Linked DNA regions of Homo sapiens: region 2 is linked to region 1. The links come from fine-mapping of genetic effects on plasma protein levels. A gene starts in region 1. The other region holds a variant in brackets. All regions are shown on one strand. Distances are between the middles of the regions.

Region 1 (2,915 bases):
ATCTTTAAGCATTTAGCTTTCCATTATTGCAGCGCATGAAAAGACTTTTTTAAACTAATTTGTAATACACAATATATTCACTCCACAAATAACTATGTACATATATATGCCCACATCAATTTCCTACTCTTTTAATTAAAAATTTATGTTTCTTTTGGTCATAAAAATCTGGTTTTGGGTGTTTTAAAAGTTCAAACAGCTATTAAGCTATACTTTGCTTTGGCACTAGCTCCCCCTCCAGACCAATGTACTAATATAACAGCATTTTTAAAAATAATAAGTTAACAGTTTTTTCCAATCCACTGGCAAATTTTAAGATTCACCACTTTTAAGGACACTCCAATTGCGTAAAAATAACTGGTAAGAATTTGCAACAAAACAATGCAGGATGTAATCAGAATTAGTTTTGTTTTGTTTTTTTCGATTCCATACATCTTAAACAGAACTGATTTGTAGGAAAACAACTTCAGGTGACTTTTTAAATTCAAAAATATCCTCAAAATATAACCTATATAAGGCCGTACTTTATGGAAATTATTTTGAATCACTATCCTATTACACAAGACACTCTTCAAGTTAACTCACAACTTGACCAAAGATACATTTTTGCATCTGTTTCTGCAATCTATGCAAGTTTCATTCCAGCTGTTCAGCTCTTGAATTCAAATAGAATTCTCAATTTATAAGGCAGCAAAAAGAAAATCCATGTCTTGGAACTACCTTTGTACGTGTCTTATAGCCTATTCATCTCTAACTCCCTGCATTTTTTACACACTAAACCTGTGAAATCACAATTACAAATGCTTGAATTCCCACCTTTTCAATACTACTGTAGTATTTACAAATCAAGTAATTAAGATTTTCTATACACATACCAGATTTCACAAGGACAGCAAGGTACAGGGCCTTATTATTTGGCATAGGGTTTTAAGATGTTTTTACAGTTATTTTAAAGAGCAGAGACTACAACTCCATTATTTCTCATATATCTGATATACTGTAGTGCTTAAATAATAATTTCTCTCCTAAAATACTTTCTATATGATGCACCTATTTAAAGAATTAGTCATAAAACATAGAATGTAAATTTAATCAAGAAAATAAACATGCACCTAACCGCCGGAATAACAAGAAAAAAAAAATCTATAATGAAACCTGCCTACAGTTTTCATAGAGGCAAGCCAGTTAAGTCAGTTACTTGAGATGCGTTTAACTCTAAACTGACACAAAACTTGTGTTGAATTTGTTCCGCAAAACCTTGAAATTTGGGGTTATGTACTACAGAATTTGGCTTTTCTGGGTCCACCTTCCTGAGTGGGTTTAAATAAACTGTGAATAATTAAAACATAGGAAGGAAAAAAACACCACCTGTCCGTGCCTTTAACCAAGGCCTCAATCTATATATTATATGGCAAAATGCTAAAATAAAAGCTCATCCGGGACAAACCCTAAGCATGACACTGCCACTTAAGAAATACACTGCGTCTCTGAAGATTGCAATCCCCACTGTGAAGAAAGAACAGGTGCTGCACCCGACAACCCACTCAATCCTGCAGGACAAACCTCCTAGAACTGATAAATATGGACTCATTTAACCTTCCCAAATAAGTTGATACTCAAAAGCCGCCAGCTCGTCATTTGCACATCAAAAGGGAGTACAGCTGCACTCAAGCCTTTAACTGCCCTGCATCAGTCCCTCGCGGATCTTTGTGAGGGTCCACTCCCTGCTTTCTAGCCCGAGCAGCACTCAGAAAGAGCCCATAACGCACGGGCATCTTCCTCCCCACAAACCGCGACTCCAGGGACCGAGCTGCTGACGAAGGGAAGGTAGGTGTGGAGGGGAAACGACGGACACCTCCCACCCCCGCCCCCAACCCTTCTCCTTCCCTAGGCTTTGGCCCCTGCCCTAGGCAAGGATGCGCGACGCCGAGGGCAGCAGCGGCGCAGCTCCGCGTCCCGGCTGGAGAGGCGGGCGCCCCTCACCCTCTGCCCGCGCCCCCGGGGCTGCGCCAAGGCATCCGCCAGAGCGTCCCGGGGGCTCCCTCCCCACTTTTCCGAGAGCCGCTGGTTAACCGGCAGCAGTTGCAGCAACAGGCCCGGGTGAACGAGCAGGGACAGCCGCGGAGCCTCCTCAGATCCCGCGCGCAGCCCAGCCCAAGACCCCGAGGCGCGCGGGGCCCGGCTCCCAAAACGCCCCCTTACCCCAGGCGGGAGCAGAGGCGGTCTCCGCCGCTCCCCGTCGCAGCTGCCAAAGCCACAGCCCTCAGCCGCAGCTGCCCCACGATGGGGGAGTGGGAAGGGTGGCTGAGTGGAGGATGCTACTCCCGACCGAACGGAGAGGAAGAAACGGAAACAGGAACCGCCGCCGCCGCTTAACGGAGCCTTCGGCGCCACTGACTGAGGCAGAGCGCGAGGCGGCGCGAGCCGGGCAGTCGCTGACAGCGCGAGACCGAGAGCGAGCTGGGTCCAGGGCGCGCGACCCTGAGCAGTGCCGGCCCCATTCCGCGGGGAGACGAAGGGACGGGTCGGCTGGGGCCAGGCGGCGGGGGTGGGATGGGGAGGGGGCCTGGAGAGGAGGGAACCGGCTGCTCGGGTCGGCCGGAGATAACGCGCGCACGCGCCGGAGCGGCTCTGACAACGAGCGCAGGCGGGGAAGCCTCGGCCAGCGCCGGCGTGCGCGCGCGAATGGGGGAGCGCGCCCCTCGGCGTTCCTGGCTTCTGGGAGAGGGCGCGCATGCGCCGGCCGCTGCCACCTACGGCGACCCTGGCATGTGCCAGGGATTCTCCCCGCCCCCTTCCTCGCTGCGCCGGTGGAGAGCGTAGCAGCAGCATCCACCGCCTAGCAGAGCCGCGGGCCACAGCGGGACGGCACAGTTCCAGCAGGGCAGCGGCTGCGCACGCCGGCTCCGGCTCGC
Region 2 (2,915 bases), 81 kb after region 1:
GCTCTCTTTAGCCCCTGCTCTAGTTTCTTTGCAGTTCTCCTAAAGAAGTTCACCAGCAAGGCCATTTACCAGACACCAGGGAATCAGGCCACTTTCAAATGTTGATAGCATTACGCTTGCCAGAGGAGAAAGGGACAAGTGAGGAGACTGAAGACAGTGCTTTCAAGAAAAAGAAGAAAAAGATATTGAATGTGCACTCGCTAAGCCAAAAAAGCAAATGCCAGGAAGAACCGTGAGCCTTGTTTGAAGCCAAGTCTGCGCAGAAGAGTCCCAGGTGTAGGGAAGGAGGAGCTGAGGTGGTCTGAGGACGCACAGCAAATGCCCTGGGGGGTGGGGCGGGAGGAGAGAACATATTTTAAGCAACCTTAAAAGACTCGTTTTAGCATTCCGCAGGAAATGAAAAGCAGATGTGTTGGTTTGGAACTTGTTTACATATTTGGCCTCTGAGAAGCTTCCAGGACAGTTAGGACTGGAGAGAAGGGGTATTTTAGGCAAATGCTATAGTCTCCACTTGGAGAGAGTGGGGCCCTTCATTGGCTCACCTGCTTCCTGAGAAGCAAGCATTTAGGCTGAAAGACCATCATTGTCCCTAAGACAGGTCTGGCTAGAATAAACCAGGATTTGATATACAGAACTGGTCTCCTTGTACCTTCTTACAGAAACTAAGGGTTGTTGCACCTCCTCTCTTGCTTTCAAGTCACACCCACTGGGCAGAGAAGTGAAATCAGAGGCCTGGACATTGGGAGGATGATGGGATGGTTCACACCAAAGGTCCTGAGATTTGCAGAAGGCTTGTTAGAATACAGATTACTGGGTCTCACCAGCTCAGCCGAGCTAAGATGAGGCCAGTGGCTACACACTGGAATCATCTGGAGATTAAAATAGACTGATAGCTGAGCCCTGTTCCCACAGATTCTGATATTAATTGGTCTGGGGTGTGACTTAGGCATTTTTTAAAAATTATTTTTAATATATAATAGAGAGGGGGTCTTACCATGTTGCCTAGCTGGTCTCAAACTCCTGGCCTCAAGCAGTCCTCCTGACTCAGCCTCCCAAAGAGCTGGGATTATAGGCGTGAGCAACCATGCCCAGCTGACTTGGGCATTGTTTAAAGCTCTCCAGATAATTATAAGGTATAGCCAAGGTTGAGAACCATTGAACTATTTATCTTTTACCTGCTCTCATCATTCCATCCCTAGATTAACTTCAATTTACCTTCATAACATGTTCACAAGGTGGT[T/G]AGGACCACAGGAGACCGTGGGATCTAAATTAGGCATAAACCTGGATTTAGAGAAGGGGCTAAAAGAATATTGCTCTCAGAGACATCAACTATCAAAAAATCTATGTAAATGCAGGCAATTCCCCTTTTTTGTAGTATGTCCAGGAAATGGCGCTCCTTAAAAGATATTTTTTAGTTGCTAAGGGACAGGAAAAGTAGCAATCTTTAACACTTATTGAGCATTTATTATGTGCCAAGTACTCTTCCAAGTGCTTTCATTTTAAATTAATTTAATTTCCACAACAGCTCAATGATGTTGGAGCTGTTATTTTCCCCATTTAGCAAATGAGGAAACTGAGATACTAGGAGATGAACTAATTTGTCCAAAATCACACAATTAGTCAGTGGTAGAGCTGGCTTTCAAATTTTGGTGTGCCTCTGAATTACGGAGACTACGGAGACTCCGCTGAGAAAGAAAAATAGCTCAGATCAGTCTGAGCTATGTGAAGTATACAAAATTTATCAAGCCTGGAGAGACAGGAGTATGGGACTTCAGTCACATCTCTGCGCCCATGTCCAGGGCAACTGTGTAAAGGCATTTTGTTCCTGCTTAACTGCCTTACCCATTATCTTCATGTTGGAATTTGTGATGCAAAGAATAACACATACCCAATCAATAGCTTATGTTATTTTAGTATAAATTCTTGGTAAACAATTTAGGAGCTGCCTCTTCTTTATTCCTTAAAAATCCTCTTGTAGCTATTTCTAATCAGAGTGTGGGTTTAGGGCAACTTGAATCTATGCTCTTGGGTGGCCACCCTCAAGCTTTGAGCTTGAATAAACTTGAAGCCATCTTCACCATGTTAACAAGAATTCTGGACAGAAATATAGTTATGATTAAGCATTAATTAGGCTGCACTGTGGCTCACTTCCTTGTAACAACAGGAAGTGAAAGTTGTGGAGTACTAGATCCTGACCACTTGCATCCTCATTGTTCCTACAGATAGTATTTCTGTCTGAGGTTAGAATCATCAGGCCTCTGATTAAGATAGATAGAATCTCTGACATTAGAATCATAAGGCTTTTGTTTAAGAATTGCTTAAGATGTTTTTCAGATCCCAAATTTGAGCTGATGCCAACAAGTTTGAAGACCCCCAGAGGAGAGCAGAATCAGCATGAGAATATAGTTTCTTCATCTCCCTGTTCTATGACTTCATCCTGCACCCTTGGGCCAAGCAAAGATCTCCACACTTCAGCCCACTCCAAAATCACTAAAAATTCTAGACCCAAATTCCTTGGAGAGACTGATTTGAGGTTTCCTCCCATCACATTCAGCTGCCCTACAATTAAACCTCTTTCTCTCTTGCAACTAGGTGTTTCAGCGTATTGACTTGCTATGCACATTGGGCAATGAAACGATTATGGTTACAAACTCTATATTTAATCATCTCTTCAGAATCTCATTAATTTAGGTTGTGAACCCCAAATATCTGAGACAGGTCTCAATTTAGAAACTTTATTTTTTCAAGGTTAAGGATGCACCCGTGACACAGCCTCAGGAAGTCCCATGACATGTGCCCAAGGTGGTCGGGGCACAGCTTGGTTTCATACATTTTAGGAAGACATAAGACGTCAATCAATATATGTAAGATGTACATTGGTTCAATCAGAAAGGTGGGACAACTTGAAGCAGGGA

Which allele goes with the higher level. Alleles are on the strand shown, and positions count from the first base shown. The strength of an association depends on the size of the effect and on how common the allele is.
With allele T in place of G in region 2, the plasma level of the protein whose gene starts at base 2,687 in region 1 is higher (strong association).

What was found. PIP is the posterior inclusion probability: the model's chance that the variant is causal. The UK Biobank Pharma Proteomics Project read protein levels with antibody pairs (Olink). The fine-mapping took linkage between variants from a reference panel, not from the people measured, so its PIPs are less certain.
Region 2: its variant is fine-mapped to the plasma level of the FUT8 protein (UK Biobank, PIP above 0.99).

The regions. Positions count from the first base shown.
Region 1 is chr14:65,412,502-65,415,416 of GRCh38, reverse strand. FUT8 (fucosyltransferase 8) reads right to left here and starts at 2,687. Exons shown (of 11, transcript NM_001371533.1): 1 at 2,203-2,687. FUT8-AS1 (FUT8 antisense RNA 1) reads left to right here and starts at 2,800. Exons shown (of 1, transcript NR_024334.1): 1 at 2,800-2,915. RefSeq lists an enhancer at 1,382-1,946 and silencers at 1,869-2,058, 2,069-2,188, 2,489-2,648.
Region 2 is chr14:65,331,929-65,334,843 of GRCh38, reverse strand. No RefSeq gene overlaps it. Among named protein-coding and RNA genes, the nearest start is that of MIR4708, 1.8 kb to the left of the region's middle. The variant T/G (reference allele first, on the strand shown) is at 1,241.